Homo sapiens: one gene and its partners. The protein of the gene in region 3 purifies or fractionates together with the protein of the main gene of each other region. This does not show direct contact. Each region holds a gene or a part of one and is shown on either strand. Other genes may lie near its edges.

Region 1 (7,000 bases), on a different chromosome or scaffold from region 3:
TAAATAATTCACATTTTTAAACATCTCACAGAATAGAAAAACATATGAAAGAAGATGGTTCTTGGGAGAAAACCAGAAGGATACCGATTGTTTAAACCTTCAATAAGCTAAACACATTAATTCTTCAATACAGATGTCCCTTCTAGGTCAAGATCTATGAGTCAGAAGTAAAATTCACTGAGACAACTCCTGCTTAGAAGCCATGTTCTATGAAAACAGGGACTTTGCTTTGTTCCTGCTATATCCTCAGCATGTAGGACTCTAGCTGAGGTTCAACAATGAAGAGTTAAAAGCCCCCTGGATAGACATGGTATCTGTCCTGCCCCAGCTTCTCTCTGCTTCTGCCTCTTAGGAACCTGACTCACCCATCCAGCTCTCCTAGAACCTATAGTTTGTCAGGGACTGGTTCCAGGAAAGTCACCAAATTGATCCACGCTCCCTTTCTTCATTTGCAAGAAGAGGAAGGGCTGGGTGAGACCAGTGGTTTTATCCAGAGGTGTCTCCCTCCACAGCACCTGGAGAGCTTGTTCAAAAGGCTCAGACCAGGCCCCACCTGTGAGAGTCTATTGCACTGAAGCAGGGTGATGCTGATCTACAAGGCCCCACAGCCTCATCCCCTCAGAAAGCCAGGGGAGAGGGAGCAGTAGGGTGGTTTCCAGATAAACTAGTCCCTCCTTGCCAGAGGCTGCAGACCTAACTCAGAGCATTCGGAAAGCACCATCCAGGTGTCCTGCCCTCATGAGAAGAGGCATTTGGTTTGGCCCACGAGGAAAGCCATCAGCTGCAGGCTCTCTAGTGGACACATCCACAAGACAGACACTGTAGAGATGCTACAAATTAGAGTTTTTAGATCTCTGCAAGACTTAAAAAATTACAAGAAACAATAAAAATGAACTTGAGAGTTTTCCACAAATATAGAATTGTGTTGCAATGTCTCAGGCAAACCAGCTGTTTCATGGAAATAGTATTTCAGGAAGTACAAAAGAACACAGCTGAAAAGTTGTCATATGACTGAATTTAATAGTTTTTACAAATTCAAATGAAAATTGCTCCTTGTCTGTTGGAATTTTACCACAGTCAAGTTTCAGGAAATTAGAAGCCAACATTCTCATTTAATGCATAGAGGCAGAGCCCCATGTGGATAGAAGCGGAGGTAGATAAGGTCTGGGAAGTGGCTTCCAGACTCTCTGTAACCTCTCAGACTGCAGGCCAGTGCAGTCCCTGGTCTGTTGCAAAGGAGACCAGCGAATCATCAGCTCTTTACCCACTCTCCTCTTTGCTTGCTGCTTCTCTCTCTCCTGGCTTCCCAGTGGGGGCTCAGGAGTAAAAGCGGGTAGGATGCCCAACCCTACTCTGCAACTGTAAAGTTAGAAACAACTTCAGAGAGGATCTTGTATGGTTTCTGGGTTGGAAAACTCGGGCTGGGCCCTACTCCTTGACTAACTGACTACATGATTAGGATTGAATCACTGTACTTCTCTGAGCCTCAGGTGATTCAACTGCAAAAATGGGAATAAAAAGATATACCTCACAAGACTATTGTGAGAATTGAATCAGCTTAAATAAACTTTATGTGCAAAGCCCCCTGGAAATGAGAGTTTTTGCTTGAAATCAGTAACCATTCCTTTTACCAGTGAGCTATCTGCCCTTTTTCCCTTCTAGGGTGAGAGGATCCAATATGCCTGTGTGAGAAGGACTTTCAAGAGCAGAAAGCCTCATCTCAATGTAAAGAGGTGGAGGGCAAATACATTGCTATGGGACTTCTGCTTTCGGAGGAAGGAAGCATCCAAGGTCCAACTGTGCAGCCTTCAGTTTCTAGGCCAGCCTGGAACAAGACCCTACTGTGGCACCAACCCAAGCACTGTAGGTGACAAATGCTGAGAAAGAAGCCTGGTTTACTGCTTGAGTACCCCTCAGACTGATACTTCTGGATTAGACCTCAGCTGCCATGTCAGAACTGACTTCTATAAAGTTTTAATATAGTTAGTTTAGATATTCTCTAGAGGGACAACAGAGCCTGGAGCAGATGGGCATTTTCTTCTGATTCGAACCCTTATAATTTTTTAGGATTACATCTTACTTGATTCATCTGTGCGAGAACGTGCTGCTCATTCCTCAGAGGGTTCTGAAAAGCAAGGAGGGTATCAGCTCCTTGGGCAGCTGGCGAGCAGTAGATGCTGTCACTGAGAGAGTAAGACAATCTGGGTCCGAGAGAGCAGGGCAAGGTGCTATGGACAATGAAACACCTTAGTACTATCAACGGACACCTGGTGGGGACACCGTGATTCTGGAGTTGAACTGACAATGTGGCCTCTGAGACCCTTACTCCACACAGAGGTGGCCATTCAAACTGTGCATACTTCCCTCTGAGTCTTGAGTTCTGACTCTGAACTTGATTTCAAGTAGGCCAAGAGAACACAATGGGCCTTTTCACCTACCTTCCTGTAAGTACATGACTGCTTGGGAATAGTTCTGCAAGGCATGATGGGTCCTTCCAAGGCTACTATATGACACCGTCTTGGCCGCCAAGTCATTCATCTGTGCAGCAATGCTCAAGTGCTGTTCTTGATAGACCACAGCCCTCTCGAAGGTGCCCAGGGATTCATAAGTCAGGCCCAGGTTCCCATAGGCTCGGCCCTGGCACGTGGGGTTGTTGGTTTCCTCTGCTATCTGTAGATCAAGCTGGTGGTACTGCAGGGCTGTGTCATACTCCCCCATCTGCTGGTAAACGCCCCCCAGGCCACAGGCTGCGTCACTCTCCAGGGCTCGGTCTTTCATATCTCTAGCAATGTTCAGCTGGCGTTCAAGGCAGGAAATGGCTTGTTCGTAATTCCCTAATTGGCTGTGCAGACTTCCCAGCTCTCCATAGGCCTGGGCTTTATTGAAGGCCTCTCCAAGTTCATGAGCAACCACGAGCCTCTTTTCAAAGCACACAAGGGCTTGCTGCAAGCTCCCCATTGCCCTGTGGGGATGTAGACAGAAAAGCAATGATATTATTTCATGCAGGTGCAGACATGCTAAAGCCCCTGAGAAAATGAAAAGCATTTGTCACTGTCACTTACTATAGAAGCTCTTAACTCCTCTTCTAGCTAAAATCTATCATGTGCCCTTAGAGTGAGATGCAGAGGAATTTCATAATCTGGAAAGCAATTCAAAAGTCATCCCTTAGTGACCTTCCCAAGAGCTTGAGATTCAATGGGATATACACCCCAGAGGAAACATAAAATATATTAATAGGCACAATGATAGCAAGTGAACTGTTTGGTTCTTCAGGCCTCCCAATTTCCACTACCGCTTAGACTATGTTTTTGAAATCACTTCACAGTGGCTATAAATCTTTCACCCTGAGCTTCTCAGAGCACTCTGTGGGTGAAGATTTAGTTTGACCCTTGCCCTTCCTCCACTCCAGGAGCCCTAATCCCCTGCCTCTCTGGTGGGGCCATATATCCTGCAGACACAGGCACCTTCTTGGGTTCCCCACATTTAGGAGAAAGTATCACCTTGACCAACAGTGTGTCTTTTTCTGCTGCTAAGAGAAGACACGATAAGCGTGGAAAGAGTATGACCAAACCAGTTGTGTGGGGCACATGAATTAGTTCCCCTGAGCCTCCAATTCTGGTGATAATAAATCCCACATCCCACAGCAGATGATAATAGATATAGAGTAATACAAAACTGTTAAAACTATTAAGATATCTGTGCAAGGGACCTTGCACAGATGATGCATGCAACATAGTACATTTATGCATTCTCCTATTATCAGGTGGCTTTTCTGAGGAGCAACACAATGGGGCCTAAGTAATTGGTTAGGTGCAGATGTTGTATTAATAAACACATTCATATAATGTGGGAGGTATTCAGAAAAGATCAGCGAAAGTGACTCGTTCACCTTCCCCATCCCTATTATCCTTCTCATTCTAATGTAGTCAAAAGGCACTGCATTTGGAGTCACAGAGCCCTGGGTTTAACTCTCAGCTGTCCCTTTTAAGCTGCATAATCTTAGGCATTAACTCAATTTCTCTGGGCTTTAGTTTCTTCATCCATAACATAAGGGTAACAACATCAACTACTTGATTCAAACAGTTGTTGGAGGAATCAGATGAGATATGTACGAAAATGTTTGTAGTTAACAAACTGCCATGCAGACACGAAGTTGCCTTTACTGCCACAAATGCTCTTTTTGCAGAACTATAAACCACAATTGTCCTTGGTCATTTTTACCTGTGTCCATTTCCCAGGCCCCGGTAAGCCTTGGCTTGGTCTTGCATGCGATTCAGACTCTGCGCGACAGATAAATATTGTTCATAGTATTTGATAGCTTCCTCATAGTCACCCAGGGCTTCGTAGCAATCCCCCAGGTTGCCATAGGCCCGGCCCCTGTCGAGCACAGACTCATTTCCACTTAGCTGCTGCAGCATGGCCAATTGCTGCTCAAAGTAGCCAATGGCTTCTTCCATCACATTCATGTTCATCTTTGTGATGCCCATGTTGCCATAGACCTGGGCTTCCAGACTCGGATCCTTCAGCTTTTGCCCTAGATCCAGTTGCTCTTCATAACACTTGAATGCCATTGTGTATTTCCCAAGGGCCATGTAGACAGCAGCCAGGTGCCCATGAGCTCTGCACTCCCCTGGCAAGTCACTCAGCTCCTGATATACCTCCAGTTCCTGTGTGTGATAACCCAGGGCCTTGTCATACTTCTGGATCATTCGGTATGCAGTGCCCAGGGCTGCATATGCACTGGCTTCTAATCTTCTGTCCTTTACCTGGTGAGCTAAGCCCAGTTGCTGCTCATAGAATTTTATTGCACCATTTATATCTTTTTTACAGATGAATATATCGCCCAGGTTTCCTAGGGCTCGAAATTTAGCCTGGGAATTATTCAGAGACTGGGCTAGGGACAGTAGGTACTTCTGACACTCTTCAGCTTTACTGAAATTCAGCAGAGCCTTGAATGCTAGGCCCAAGTTGCAGTAGGCTTTTGCTTGGCTCAACTTGTCGTGAAGGTCTTTAGCCAGTGCCAGATCCTGTTCGTAGTACTTCACTGCCTCCTGATAGTTTCCAAGGCAGTAATGGGCATAGCCAAGATTGTGGCAGACCTTCCCTTCTCCTTCCATGTCTTGAAGGTCGGGAGCAAGCCGGAGGTACTGTTCATAATAGGGGGCAGCCTGGACATACTCTCCCCGAGAGCAGTGGAAATTGCCCAGGTTGCTGAGGGCCCGGGCCTCGCTCTGGATGTCTCGTAGCTCCCGGGCGATGTTCAAGTGGTTCTGATAGTGTTGCAGGGCCCGGTCATGGGCACCCAGGGCCTGGTAGGCCACGGCAAGGTTCCCATGTGTGGAGGCCTGTGAGGCGCGGTCATTCACTTCCATGGAGATCTGCAGCTCCTGCCGATGGTATTTGACCGCCTGGTCGTACATGCCCAGGGCATTGTAGGCATTGCCCATATTCCCATAGGCACGGCCCTGGGCAGCATAATCACTCAGCTCCTGGGCAATGCACAGGTGGGTCTTGTGGAGTTTCAGTGCAGTGTCATAATCACCTTTCATCTGGTGTATGATTCCTGAGAAAGAGAATAAAAGAACAGACTAAGACTGAAATAACTGATTTGCAATGTAGAAAGAAATGTAATTTGCATCTCAATTTATAGTAAAATGCAATCCAGATGAATTAAAGAATTTAAAATAACAGAAGGTAGAATTAAATATTTATCAGCTCTCCACAGAGAGGATAGCTTAAGTTTCAAAGCAACAGAAAAAAACATTTACTGATTTTATTACAAAAATAAGAATGTTTGTACTACAAATACATATCTAAAATTAAAAGGCAAAACAATACTGGAAAATATATTAAACATAAATGAAAAAGTTCAATAGCCATTGCGTATAAAGAGTTTATTTGGTTTGATTTTTTAAAAATGAAGATCCCAATTTACTAAAATAGGCGAAGACCTGTAAATGTTAGCAGACAACTCACATCCACAGAAATACAAAGAGTAACCACAAGGGAAAATGCTAATTTCCTTTAATAATCAATGAAATGCAAAATAAAGCAACCCTGAAGTACCATGTTGCTTTGGCTAAATTAGCAAACAAAAAAATTAACCACAACTCCTACACTGATGAGATTGTCCTAAAATTGGTAAACACACCAACTGCTGGGGACATAAACTGGAACAACCTTTTTGCATAAGCAGCCTGGCAAGAACCACAAACGGCGCTCCTACTCTGACCCAGCAATCTTACTCGAGGGAAAGTATCCTAAGAAAATAATCTGACAAACACAAAAGATTGCATAACAATACACGTAACAACCTTCAATGTGGCACCATAAACTACTGGAAAATCAGAAACATCTTAAATGTGAAACACTGGGGGATTGTATAAGTACATTTTGGTATATCAACTCAATAGAGGATTATGCAGTCATTAAAAAGATAATTATGAAGTCTATGCTGAAAAATGGGAAACAATGTTCTTGTAATCATATTAACTGGAAAAATCAGGAAAAAATGCTGCATGCTCCCGTGACAATAACTAGGAAAGTAAGTATGTCCATACACACGGACAAGCTCTTGACGGGGTTATACAAAAACAAAAATAGTTGCCTTGTTAGGTAGTGGAATTTCAGTAATTTTTGTTCTAAAATCTCTTGTAATTCTGCTATACTGCTTTTACAATCAACAATAACAGTGCTCCAAACAAACCTCATGAACCATATTATAGCTGCTAAGCTAAACTATTGTTTTAACAAGCAGTTTAAAAAAGTGAGTTATATCATACATATCATAACTATAAAGTGGTTTCAAATGAGGGATAGCATAATGGTAACTTGGGAGCTGGCTTTAAGGAGAGCTTCGTCCATCCCAGTTGGGGCTAGAGTGAGGGCCACCACTAGAAAAGGTGGAGAGAAGCTAGTATGCAAACAGGTTTCTCCTTGCCTTTGGTTTTGAACATGCTTTTCCATGCATCAGTCTGTGAGCTTTCCAGTGGTGACTAAA
Region 2 (8,092 bases), on a different chromosome or scaffold from region 3:
TCCTTAGTTTGACCTCAGCATAAGGCAAAATCCCCTGGACTAATACATTTAAAAACAAACTTAAAGGAAAAAAAGCGAAACCAACCTTCATGCAAAGATTAATTTTAAAACTATCAAAAGTCAGTTCTTTTATTCCAGAGGTCACTGAGAAAAGTACCATCTGCTAAAATTCTCTTTCAAGCACTTCTTCCATCATATCCTAGAGGTGAGATATGGGAAACAGAAAGCAAATCAGTGTTTCCTTCAGGAGCTATATTCTGTTACTCAATTGAGGTAAGACAAAGTGACAATGAAGATATGAGTAGTATTTCCTTCCAATTTTTAAACATTTTCAGAAGCTGAGATCAAACCCCAGTCAATAAAATGCAGGACACTAGAAGCAACAACTTATTTTGGACTCCTGAGATCAAACACATTGAACTTTCAAATCTGGTGTTTGTATCAAAATGTGATTTTCATTAAAATCAGGTAAGCTAGTCCTACATAAAAAAGCATGAGCTGAAAGTGGAGGACCCTCTATCTTCTCATTCCTTAACTGAGCCACCGATGTTAAGAAAAAAATGGCTTAAGCGGTACCTTCAACAACTATTCTAGTTAAGAAGGTGACAACAAATTCCTTTCAATAGGTTCTCTCAAGAAAAGTTTTCCACACAACCATCCCAGTCTTTACAATTTTTTACCTAGCACCATCATAATAAAATGTTATCTTTCAAAGTGCTCTCTAAAATCCTGTTACATTATCTAAATGCTAATCACTACTCAAATCAGCAGTTACACAGACGTTAGGTAATTAAAACAGCACAGAGGTAAATAACCATTATTACAGTACAGTGGCGATTCACTAGCCCAACTGGCATCCAAACATTCCCATAGGTTATCAGAGAACCCAGAAAACCCATCTGTTTCAGTTTGTCAAATTCAAGTGAATTGTATTTTCTTAAGTAATTTGCTTTACAAAAAAAGAAAGTCACCGCATCTGGTTTTGGCTAGGTATATTACACATGGCATGCAAAGAGAAATTACTACTATGTTATTTGCATAGCACTCAAACTTCCTGATCAGAAGATAATCTCAACATAATAAAAGAGTGGATTTTCACATTGGTATGCACAAATAAAGAATATAAGCTACAGTTATTTTTACAAAATAACACAGATGAATGAATACTGTGTTAATTCAGAGTTCAATCTCCAAATGAGAACAGAGTGCAACATGCAAAGGGAACCTCTAGTGAATACTGCAAAGACTGGAAGAAAACAGAATGTAAGATGTTACCTACCTAAGGGTAACAAGCTATAAAATACAAAGCAAAACCATTTTCTAGCAGCATCCTCTAGAAAAGAACTAGAAGTCACAATCATATTATCTTCTATACAATAGTTCCAGCCCTGACAAGTAGAACATGCAAGTGTAAAGTGAAAGTGATACACAACCAATGGTGCGGGGGGGGGGGGGAGGAAGAAAACAACTCTAGAAACCTGTCAAGCTAAAAATTTTTAACATTTCTTCTCACAAAATATTTAGAATCTGTCAGTGCATTAGTGTTAAAGTGGCATTAAAAAAACTTCTGCAGTTCTAACTGATGCAGATTATTTTCAAAATGCATAGCATCTACATTTCTTTCGAGTAGGCACCATGATATTTACACCAGTGCTAAGAATTCTTGGTGGAAACAGCCATTTCATTGGATTTCCTACTATTCTTCTATGCAATCTCAACAAATACCAAAATTCAAAAATATACCTTATGAATATTAAAAGAACTATATACAACATTGCTAAGACACAGTTAATAGGCTGCCTTATGTGAATATTAAAGAGAAGACATTATTCAAGTTTGACAGATATTGAGATGAAAGGCCTTTGGGTTGGAAGCATTTTAAAAGACAACAGTGTTTTAGGCTGAGAATTGTTTGAGCCCAGTTTATGACTAAGGCATTGCATAATAAAATATACATTTCTATTTGGTGCAACGTTATGTTTGGAATCTATAGTGTGTCAAATGGTATATTTTCTTGTCACTTTAGTAAACACTATAAAGCACACATTTCCAACATCTGAAATCAAACTTATAAACTTATAAGGAAAAAAGCCAAACACTAAATCTATAATGTTTTATATTAAGCTGTTTATAAAAAATACTTTAACAAACTTATCTTCTACTTTTTACGGGGACAGTCACTTGATCAACAAACAGATTCTGAATGAAGAAAACTGGCAATGCCAGGAATTAACCTGCCCCCTTGAACTCATGTCCAAAATGTCTTGTCCAGTATGGGAGTGAAGGTAAGGGGGGCTGGGGAGAGGAAAGAGTTCCAACTGCGGTTTTTACTTTATTGTATTTTTTTTAAAGCCTTCAGAAACATTCCACCTAAGAGTTTCTGTTAGAAAATACTTCGGCAACAACCATCAAGTGTGCTGTCCCCTATGGCCATCTCCCATCCCTGATCTCCTCCTATCTCCCCTAAATGGTCGCCCTCTGACATTTCGATGGTACTGATAACCTTCATCCCGACTTCTGCTTGGCTGTCCTTTCCAGGACTCCTCACTTCTCACATGTTGATATCCACCCCTACCAGAATAGCCCCAATCACTTTTGTACTTCCTGCTTCCATAAGTTTGATTATAGAACTGCTTGGATCTACCACTTCTCAAAATATTAGACACTTCATTTTCATCTTCTGAACTCTCTTCTTTTGGTCTTTGCACTCTGCTATCAACAGAGTTGGCCCCAGGGCTGACCACATCAGCAGCAGTCTTAGGATCTTTTACTTTTTCTGTTTTTTCTTTCAGGCTTTGAATGGTCCTTTTAGGTTCAAGTTCAACAGGCACAGTTTCTCTCTCTCTGTTTAGAATCTGAGTGGGAGGATGAGCCTTTCCCTCTGCTACAGGAGGGATGGAAGCCAATGCCGTATCTGCCTTTCGTGTCTGGGAAGATTGCTCTGTCCGGCCTTCGTCCGGCTTACTGCTCACACTTGCTTCAGGGAGAGAATGTACATGTTCACCCCTGGCTTCTGGAAACTCATCTACTGTTGAAACTGAACCACAATCTTTAGACAGATCCAGATTTTCCAGAGACAGATCCAATTCTCCTTTTTCATCAGAGGGCAGGACAATATTCTGCCTCATTACTGGATTTTCTATGAATCCCTGAAAAGGGTACCCATACCAAACATGAGGAAAGAAAGGAGGTGCAATAGGAACTGGGCCTAAGAATGGATTGGGTCCAAAAGATGGCTGGGGGAACATATTCTTGCCACTTAGTGACTCTTCATAATCAGCATGCAGAAGCTGCCCAGGGGTCTCAGATTCAAGATCAGCCTGGTAAGACAATTGTCCATGACTTTCAGACACCTGAGATGGAGGGATAACCAGAGGTGAAGAAAATGTCGGCGGTCCAATCTCTGGCTGTGGCATTTGACCATTAACACTGGCCTCAGTCTGCATAGGAAAGTGGGCATCAGTACAGGTACAATCACTTTCATTCTGAGCAGCAGGAGCCTCTTGGAACCAGGGATTATGAGGATAAACAGGGACAGGGACCTTTGGGTACATCCTGCAGGCTGCCAGGTAGGCCTGGTGCAGAGGGTACAGGTAAGAATGTGGGGCCCACATAGGACAACTGTATGCCTGAAGAGACAAAAAACAGTTAAATAAACAAAAGAGGAGAAAAAAGAGAGGTTTGGGTGGATATCAATCTACAAGTACTAGGGTCAAAATAAGTTTCTCATGCCTACAAAGACCATATAATCTATAGTCCAAATACTAAATCACTGTGATAACCAACGTGAAAATGAATTACAAAATTCACTGCTTTAAGACTCCATTGCTTGCTCCTGTCCTAAAACCAATCTGAAGTCCTCATAGGTTGATAGGAGATAGTATCTCCATCACTGACTGTTTAGCCAGACCTGCATTCACATTCGGGCTCTACCACTAACTCACTGTGTGACCCCATGCAGGCCAGTTAACATCTGAATTTGTTTTACTGGGAATGTCAGTATAAGAGTAGATGATCTCCAATGTCAGGACTCTGCAATTCTAGGAGCCCCCAAGAGTACTCCGAATGTAAGGATTAAGTTAGACCTCTAATCAGGGAGGGATAATGTTGAAAATGAAATATTCCAAATCCTTCCTCTGCAAGAGTTCAGCTAAAAACCAAAATATGAAGAAAGTATAACCAGCTAATTGGCTAACCAATTAAAATCAACATTAAATACATTAAAATTAAGCAATGCAGCAGATAGTAAAATAATCAAGTTTCTTTTTATGAAAGTGGTCAGCAGGCTAAAGGTAGGGCACTTCGTTTCATAGTTTAACTGTCTAGAACCCACAAAAACTAATCTAGGTCAGGAGAAAACCTAACATTTAACAAGGACAGAGTTCTCCAACCTAAGAAAAGCTATTTCTAGGTTGACCACTTCCCAAAGGATACCTCTGCTCTTCTAGTCAACAACCACACTATCTTACATAGGAGGATGTACACGTTATTTCCTTTGATCTTTTCAATAATGGAGGCAAGTAAAGAATATTACCCCCATTCTATAAATGAAAAAAGCTAGGCCCAGATACACTACATGGCTTGCCCAGGGAAATTCAGCTAAAGAGTGATGGAGCAGAACTTCAAGCCCAGATTTACATCTAATTATTCCCCAGCAAGGGCATTTCCACTAGGCTGCCCAAAGATGCAGCTATGTCTTAAATATACTCACAGGTTAAGCCATCACCAGTTAAGACAAAAAAGTAAGTAAAACTGGAGCCTCTACTAGCACCAAAAACAAACGATATAGTACTGAAAATGCTGGTTTTTAAAATGATGAGATTTAGTAAACTTTAGGTTACTGACTGACAGGGTAAGAGTTAACACTAGTAATAATTTAAAACACTATTAATGAATAAAATAACTTTTAAGATGATAAAATGTAAATACCTTCACACCAAGATTGAAGAAGAATCGAAGAATATTCTTATCTAAAAATAAAAGTAATCACTTGTTAAAATTATATATCTGCAGAGATTTTTTTAAATCATCCTCATTAAATATATAGTTCTAAAGACAATTTTACCTACTATAATTGTCTTCTCTAGCCTGTGATACAAAACATAGATAAAAACTGTAATATAACACAACCCAAAAACAGGTTGTTCCCAAAGGTTAATTCCAGATTCAATAGGCTTTGTCTGTTAGCATATAAATCCCAAAATGGCTTAGATTGAAATTTTTATCTCATTAAAACTGAATCTGGGTAAAGGACATTCAGGTGGCTTTCTTTCTCAACTTTTCTGGGGGTTTAAAAATTAGGAAATAAAAATGTTGAGAAGAATGGTAAAATCAACATAAAACCTAACTTATTAGTAGCATCATTTGCAGGATAATATTCTTCCAAGTATTCATATGCCATGAGCCAGTTACTCATAGACACAAACATCAAACTACTAACTAATAAAACAAAAACATCCACATAAATCCAGGTAAACAGCATATAGTAGTCAGTGCATTACTCAAATTTACAGATATAAAATTTTGGAAACTAAAAAGGAGGGAGGTGTAAATTCCTTAAAAATAAAGAGGGAAAGCAAACTTTGAAAGAATTTTTTAAACAAAAATAAGACATACTAAATATAGTACTTTAACAGCCACTACATACTATATTTGCTTTTCTCTGTAACTTTTTCACGGATGCATGTCTGAAATGCAGACCAGTGTTGATAAAGCTCCACAGTGTTTAGGTATCTAATTAGTGAAATTATTATTGTAATTCAGAATGGTTTCAAGTCCATTTATGTAAAAACACAGAAGGAGGTATCATTACTAAGCATACTAGCATTAACAAGTATGCTAGAAACAAAAAAAAATTTTCTGGGCCAGGCGCGGTGGCTCACACCTGTAAACCCAGCACTTCGGGAGGCCAAGGCACGCAGATTACGAGGTCGGGAGATCGAGACCATCCTGGCTAACACGGTGAAACCCCGTCTCTACTAAAAAATACAAAAAATTAGCCAGGCCTGGTGGCATGTGCCTGTAGTCATCCCAGCTACTCAGGATGCTGAAGTGGGAGAATTGTTTGAATCTGGGAGGTGGAGGTTGCAGTGAGCCGAGATCACACCACTGCACTCCAGCCCGGGTGACAGAGCGAGACTCCGTCTCAAAAAAAAAAAAAAAAAAAAATTATAATACATTTTCTAATAAATCAAGCTGAAACAAGAATGACTGACTAATAGCTAAAACTTTGCTGTCCTTCCCATCCTTGAGCTTACTAAGAAACCAGACCTCTGACCTCTACTTACATCTCTTCATTTCTTAACTAAGCTTATTTGGACTTGATAAAGTCGATTTGAACTTGGAGAAGGAGCTCACCTTTAGGTAGGTCCTCCCCAGTCTGACACAGTGAATAAGGTGGTACAATGGCTCGATCTCCCTTTTCATTACAAGGAAACCCAGGATAGAGTGGGTCTTGATAAAGGCTCAATGTCTGAGGCAAAGGCATCAAGGGCTGGTTAACTGCCTGTATTGACACAGGAACTGGAGAGGGTGTTAAATGAGCTTGGGATACAGCTGAATCAGGTCCAGTGGTCAAAGTCTGTGTCACTGACAAAACGGGAATTGGAGCAGGGACACCTACAAAAGAGAAGAAAAGGAATCAAAATGACAAAAGATGAAAATCTCTACAAATATGCTTACATTAACCTATAAAGAATGCTGTATAACTGATAAAGCCAATCTAAAGTAGTACCTTTTAGTATCAACCAAGAGCCCTCCTGGACACCAAGAAGGAAATACGTCCAGGATACAAGCTCTGAGTCAATGTCTTCTAATAGTAGCTCTTGCAGGCACGTGTAGGACATGGGGCTGGTCAAGGGGTTCATTACGGGGCCATAAAGAGCTGGCCCATGAAGGAAGCATCAAACCGTGGTGCTAATTAGTGCTGAGCAACCAAAGCAACCAGCTCAAACATCATGCTCCTGAGACTATGAGGGCATATGTCAGATGAATACAACACCAAATGTACATGGTCTTTCCACATTGGAAGCAGAGCAAAGCAGAGTATCACAGAAAGCTCTGTGAGGCTCCACACACCTAATCCTGCTCAGAGGTCAAACTTCCACTCAAGAATTTGAAGTCTCTGACTAGAAAGGTATTTTGGCTGGCTAGATTTTCTAAACCCTTCTCTAACCTGTTGGTCCAAAAGTTGTAGGTTCACTTGGCCAGGCTGGCACAGTGGCTGGTAAAGAAGGCACCGCAGGAGTTAGATGTACCTCTGGAGAAACTAGAAGGGGAGCTGGATTTGACAAAGACACATGTTCTGCTGGCTTCTTCAAGAAAGGGGTGAGTGGGGGAAGACAGAAAAAGACAAGAGGTCATTTTGCTTTAACACTATTTCTAACCACCAGATACATATTGAGTTGCCTGCCTTTTATACAAATGAAGTACAAATAGCCCTTATAGTCTTAGAAATGTAAGAAAAACACACAGTAGCTAAAGATAATATGCAAACAAATTTGATCCTAACCAAGGGTTGCCTACCAACAAGGACTGTATTTTTTAATACAGACAGGGTTTCACCCTGTTGCCCAGGCTAGTCTCAAAACTCTTGGGCTCAAGCGATCTGCCCGCCTTGGCATCCCAAGGTGCTGGAATTACAGGCGTGAGCCACCGCACCTATCCACTAGCAGAGTTAAATACAACACAATACTTTTAAGGCAAGTGAGCAAAATCATTGAAATCTTGAAATTCATGATTATTTAGAAAAACTCCTCATGTAACTATATGCTTTCTTACCAATATGAAGAATGTTGGTTGAAAGGCATTTAACATTTAACTTTCTCTACTCTTGTATTAGTCAAGAACTAAAATGTCTGCTAGAACACAGGTTCATCATGAAATTTGTAAATTGGTATTTTTTTAATGTATATTTTTCAAACCTTTTCAATCAGTACATTCCCTCCCATCTGTGAAATAACTGATGCAGATAACTCTTTTAAATTTTGAAATAAAGTAGAAATTCAGTTTCCCTTCAAAAATCTAATTTTCAAGGAAATCTACCAAAGTAATACAAAGTATCAAATATAACGATAACAAATATAAATATATT
Region 3 (6,028 bases):
CCCTATAAATTTATACAAATAAAAGAGTTTAAGGGAGTTCAAGGATGCCATATGTATATTTTAAAAAAATTTCTAAGGGAAGTCTAAAAAACATAAATTATAATATTACCCAAAATAAGATGCTACTTTTCACCTAACCAAGTCCTGCCTCATTTCACACTTTAACCTCCTAAGTATATTCATAACCCTACCAAAAGTTGTTTTCTTTAAAAAATAAGAAACTTTAGGGCCAGCGCAATGGTGCAAGCCTGTAATCCCTGCACTTTGGGAGGCCGAGGCAGGTGAATCCTTTAAGGTCAGGAGTTCGAGACCAGCCTGGCCAACATGGTGAGACACACTCCCCCACCCCCGCCCAGTCTCTAGTAAAAATGCAAAAATTAGCCGGGCGTGGTGGCGTGCACCTGTAATCCCAGCTACTCGGGAGGCTGAGGTAAGAGAATCACTTGAACTGAGGAGGCAGAGATTGCAGTGAGCCGAGATCCTGCCACTGCACTTCAGCCTGGGCAACAGAGTGAGACTCTGACCAAAAAAGAAATTTTGCAGCTCCAAGGCTTGAAGTCATTTATGTTGCCAGGGGTAAGAGCTTGGTTGAAGGGCTAAAAGACTAGAAACTACTGAAGATGCCCTTCTTACTGTCAGTAAAGCTGCTGGAGACAAAAGAAGTTGTTCTCGCTGCTAGAGTGGTAATTTGAGAATCATCAGTATTCCTATGTGACAATCCAAAATTACTGGTTTTCATTTGACTTGTAAATGACACCCATCATCCATCTGCCCACAAACCTGGCCAAATGTGATACAACCTGAAAACCTGATGGACTAAAGGAGTACTATTTAACAATTGATTGCCTTTGCACTTTATTCAGGTTGTTTCTTAAATTTTGGTAGACAGATCCATTTGTATATGTGTGTGTTATATCTAGTTTATGGCTATAGAGAAGGTTTAAAATACTACAGTGTCCTTCCCTCAAGGTTAAATTAGAAGCTGCCTGCCTTTTAGTTGTTTCTTGCCTTTAATAAAATGTTATCAGTTCCCCCAGATTTCCTGGCACTGTGTTCTTCTTCCACTTGACATAGTCAGGCATCTTAGCAACAGTATAGTACCCCAACCTAATGATCCCTGAATGTGTATATGTGTTTCAAACTCCATTTTTCTTATTTTTTAATTGTAATCTCACAACATTACCATTTTTCTTTTTATTTTTATTTTTAAGTTCTGAGGTACATATGCAGGATGTGCAGGTTTGTTTCATAGGTAAATGTGTGCCATGATGGTTTGCTGCACCTATCAATCAACCCATCACCTGGGTGTTAAGCCCAGCATGCATTAGCTATTTTTGCTAATGCTCTCCCTCCCTCTACCCTACCCACTGCCAGGCCCCAGTGTGTGTTGTTCCCCTCCCTATGTTCATGTGTTCTCATTGTTCAGCTCCCACTTATAAGTGAGAACATGCAGTATTTGGTTTTCTGTTCCTGCGTTAGTTTGCTGAGGATAATGGTTTCCAGCTCCATCCATGTCCCTGCAGAGGACTGTTGCTTTTTATGGCTGCATAGTATTCCATGGTGTATATGTACCACATTTGCTTTATCCAGTCTGTCATTGATGGGCATTTGGGTTGATAACCATCCATTTTTCTTTGTAAGAAAAAGATCCAAAAACTTCTTGCCATGTTTGGCACATCTCCAATACAAACCACGTGATATAACTGGTTTTTTTTTTTTTAGATAATCCCACTTTAAAACAAGATATTTAATTGATTGTTTCAGGTATGACTGTCAGGAGCAAATTATCTTTTCCCCGAAGAACAGCCATGGAAAGGGAATCACTGTCAAGAGCTTTAACAACATCAGTTGTAGTAGTAATAGGTTTCCCATTTATGTTGACAATTACATCGTGATCTCTCAATCCAGAGCTGAGAGAGGGAGAAAAAAAAGAGGATCATGAAACTATAACAAGAATTTTACTTATCCCCATCTATAATTTAATATTTCTGTCTTAATGGCACTATTTTGCTGGCATTAAGCATACAAACGAGAAAATAGCCTCAATCCTTCCAAATCATAAAGCTATTCTAAAATATGCTGCAAAAAAGTCACCTAGAGGACAACTGTCTTATTTACCTTTATAAAATTAATTTCCTATCAGAATCATGTGAGAAGTTTACTCCTCCCATTTTGGGGAGTTGGTTTGGAAGGGGGAGTTTAGCTTTTAATTTCTATCAACCCCTGACCTCTGTGAACTTCAAACATGCTCCCAGCCTCAGCAGCCAAAGTGAAAAGCCCAAGCAATATGTTTTCTCCCAGACACTTAAACTCGGCTCAGTTTGATTCTGGCAGCCCACTCACTTGCCTGTCTTTCCCACCCCACCCCACCCCCCCGCCCCAGCTTATGGAGCTGGGAAGGATGCTGAGCTGCATTATAGGAATTCTGCTTCCACTAAATCAAAAACCCGCCAACCTTCTGAGTCTAAATATTTCCAGCTCTGGCTCTAGGCTCCTTTTCTCCAAAGTTGTGACTTTATTGCCTTCAACATAATTGCTTCACATAGAGTATATATTCTAGAAGCAAAAACCAGCTCCAAATACAAAACACTACAATACAGAAATAGCCATGCCAGTGATTTGGTGAAAATAGGCTGAAAAAGGAACAGCAAATGACTCCAGGAGACACCACTTGATAGAAATGGGAAGCTCAAGGAAGAATGATAATGTGGTTTGATCATCAAGATATGTGGAGTTTAAAAAGAAGAAGCTTAACGCAAGAGGATATGAAGAGACGCTTAAGTATAAAACTAAAATCAAGAAATAACCTTAGAACAAAGACAGTTTAGGAGGATGACTTAGGACCAGTGAGTACAAAGAAAGAACTTATAGAGAACTTAATTCATACTAGTCCTGTGAGTCAGAAAAGAGAAAAAGAAACCTGCAAATTATTACTAATAACCTATGCACCAAATATGAGGAACTATGGCTCAGACAGGACAAATGACCTTTTTCTGTGTCATGCAACTTGTGAGAGGGATTTCATCCTGGGTCTTTCAGACTTGGGAACCCATCTTCTTGCCACTAAATCACTCTGCCTGTCAGAAACAGAAAAGCAGCCACCAAAGCAGGATAATAGAAGGGTTCAGCCAGGGCCCACATCCCTGCTCTCTGCTCTCTGATTTACTGCGTTCTACAAGTTAATGAACCTCTTTGTACCACAGCTGCTTCCTCTATAAAATAATACCTATATCATAAAATGTTGGGAGCACAAACAGGTGTATAAAACACTTCAAATAGGCCAGGAGCAGTGGCTCACACTGTAATCCCAGCACTTTGGGAGCCACAGGCGTGTGGATCACCTGAGGTCAGGAGTTCGAGACCAGCCTGCCCAACATAGTGAAACCTCGTCTCTATTAAAAGTACAATAATTAGCTAGGTGTGTAATCCCAGCTACTTGGGAGACTGAGGCAGAAGAATCGCTTGAACCCAGGAGGCGGAGGTTGCAGTGAGCTGAGATCATGCCATTGCATTCCAGCTGGGGCAACAAGAGCGAAACTCAGTCTCAAAAAAATAATAATAATAAAAATAAAACACTTCAAATAGTGCCTGAGATATAGTAAAAGTTTTGTAAGTGCCAGATAGTGGTGTAATTATCATTATATTAGGTATAAGTCAGTGAAAGCCAGAAAGAATAGATTTGTTTGAGACAGGTTCTCACTCTCTTACCCAGGCTGGAATACAGTGGTGCAGTCATGGCTCACTGCAGCCTCAAACTCCTGGGCTCACATGATCCTCCTGCCTCAGCCTCCCTACAGGCACCTGCCACCACACCCAGCTGATTTTGTTTATTTTATTTATTTGTCTTTAGAAACTATGTTGCTCAGGCTGGTCTCAAACTCCTGGTTTCAAATGATCCTCCCACATCATGGCATGAGCCACCATGCCCAGTCCTGATTTCTGTTTATCAGCAACTTCCAGCACTAATTTTCACATTTTAACATACACATGAATCACCTGGGGATCTTGTTAAACACACAGATTCCGATTCAGTGGATCAAAGGTGGGACCTGGGATTCTGCCTTTCCAACAAGCCCCAGCTGAGCTAATGACGCTGGTCTACAGACCACATTCTGAGTAGCAAGGACTTAGCCGAAAGAAATAGCTTTGGTCTTGAACCAGAACTTAAGGAAATGGGGGAAGAGTGGAGCAGAGCAGGAATGAGAAAAGTCCAGAGAAACCAGGGACAAGCCAAATTTAGTAACATGAGACCTATGACTGCTGTGCTGAACAGTGCCCTCTGATTTCACTAGGGGGAAAGCCCCAGTGAAAGTGGTGCCATAATCTAAACAGATTACTGAGCTCTTGAAAAATAAAAACAATGAGAAAGGGATAATAAAGAAGTACAGACCGCGGGCGGTGGCTCACGCCTGTAATCCCAGCACTTTGGGAGCCCGAGGCAGGCGGATCACAAGGTCAAGAGATGGATACCATCCTGGCCAACATGGTGAAAACCCATCTCTACTAAAAATACAAAAATTAGCTGCGCGTGGTGGCACACGCCTGTAGTGCCAGCTCCTCGGGAGGCTGAGGCAGGAGAATCACTTGAACCCAGGAGGCAGAGGTTGCAGTGAGCCGAGATCGCATCACTGCACTCCAGCCTGGTGACAGAGCGAGACTCCGTCTCAAAAAAAAAAAAAAAAAAGAAGTACAACAGAAAAGCCCAGGAGAATGATATTTGTAGGACAAGCCACCTCTCTCAGTACTTAGTATTAAATGTTTTGAAACAACAGTGAAATCAGCTGGAGAACCTTCTTTTGGAAGCTGTCCTAGCCTTTGCTTTATTACACAGGTCTTAGCGCTGGCCTCTGATATTGTCATTCAGAGTTCAAAGAAAAATGTAGGTTTTGTGAGGTTTTGGTGTAGTTTTTTTTTGCTTGTTTGTTTGTTTGAGACAGGGTCTCACTCTGTTGCACAGGCTGGAGTGCAGTGGCATGAGCACAGCTCATTACAGCCCAGACTCAGGTGATCCTCCCATCTCGACCTCCCCAAGTAACTGGGACCACAGGTGCAAACCACCACACCTGGCTAATTTTTGTTTTTTGTTTTTTGTTTTTTTAAATGGGGTCTCGCTTTCTTGCCCAGGCTGGAGTACAGGGGCGTGATCCCAGCTCACTGCAACCTCTGCTGCCCAGGTTCAAGCGATTCTCTGACCTCAGCCTCCCAAGTAGCTGGGATTACAGGCATGCGACACCACACCCAGCTAATTTTTATATTTTTTAAGTAGGGATGGTGTTTCACCAAGTTTGCCAGGCTGGTCTCAAAATCCTGACCTCAAGTGATCTGCCCACTTTGGCCTCCCAAAGTACTGGGATTACAGGCGTGAGTCACGGCACCTGGCCTAATTTTTATTTTTTGTAGAGACAGGGTTTCACCGTGTTCCCCAGGCTGGTCTCGAACTCTCAGGCTCAAGCAATCCTCCCACCTCAGCCTCCCAAAGTGCTAGGATTACAGGGCTGAGCCAACATGCCCAGCCGAAAAATGTGTTTTAAAATACCTAAAATATGGCCAGGCGTGGTGGCTCATGCCTGTAATCCCAGTACTGTGGGAGGCCGAGGTGGGTGGATCACTTGAGGTCAGGAGTTCGAGACCAGCCTGGCCAACATGGTGAAACCCTGTCTCTACTAAAAATACAACAATTAACCAAGCGTGGTGGCGGGTGCCTGTAATCCCAGCTACTCGGGAGGCTGAGGCAGGAGAATTGCTTGAACCTGAGAGGTGGAGGTTGCAGTGAGCCAAGATTGCACCACTGCACTGCAGCCTGGGCAACGAGTGAGACTCCATCTCAAAAGAAAAAAAAACTATTAATGAATAATTAATAGTTACTAATACCTAATAGGTGTTAATCACTTAATAGTTATTAAGTAATAACTATTAATGTTGAAAGGGTAGATTTGGGAATTCCTAGCCAAATTAATTTAAACTTATGCTATTAACTCATAACATGAGCTCTTCTTAGACTATAGAGAACCACCTCCCTCCCAAAATA

The links.
Region 1: the proteins of HTRA4 (region 3) and TTC28 purify together in Homo sapiens (affinity purification with mass spectrometry; 2 studies listed by BioGRID and IntAct, with this or other methods). This does not show direct contact.
Region 2: the proteins of HTRA4 (region 3) and OTUD4 purify together in Homo sapiens (affinity purification with mass spectrometry; 2 studies listed by BioGRID and IntAct, with this or other methods). This does not show direct contact.

What each region holds. Positions count from the first base shown.
Region 1 is NC_000022.11:28,102,841-28,109,840, forward strand, and holds part of TTC28 (tetratricopeptide repeat protein 28), read right to left. Parts: intron 5,564-7,000; coding exon 4,222-5,563; intron 2,963-4,221; coding exon 2,439-2,962; intron 1-2,438. UniProt on the Homo sapiens protein: During mitosis, may be involved in the condensation of spindle midzone microtubules, leading to the formation of midbody.
Region 2 is NC_000004.12:145,135,022-145,143,113, forward strand, and holds part of OTUD4 (OTU domain-containing protein 4), read right to left. Parts: intron 7,314-8,092; coding exon 7,175-7,313; intron 6,619-7,174; coding exon 6,358-6,618; intron 4,971-6,357; coding exon 4,930-4,970; intron 3,630-4,929; coding exon 2,409-3,629; 3' UTR 1-2,408.
Region 3 is NC_000008.11:38,983,818-38,989,845, reverse strand, and holds the end of HTRA4 (serine protease HTRA4 precursor), read right to left. Parts: intron 1,911-6,028; coding exon 1,748-1,910; 3' UTR 1,183-1,747; downstream 1-1,182. UniProt on the Homo sapiens protein: Serine protease.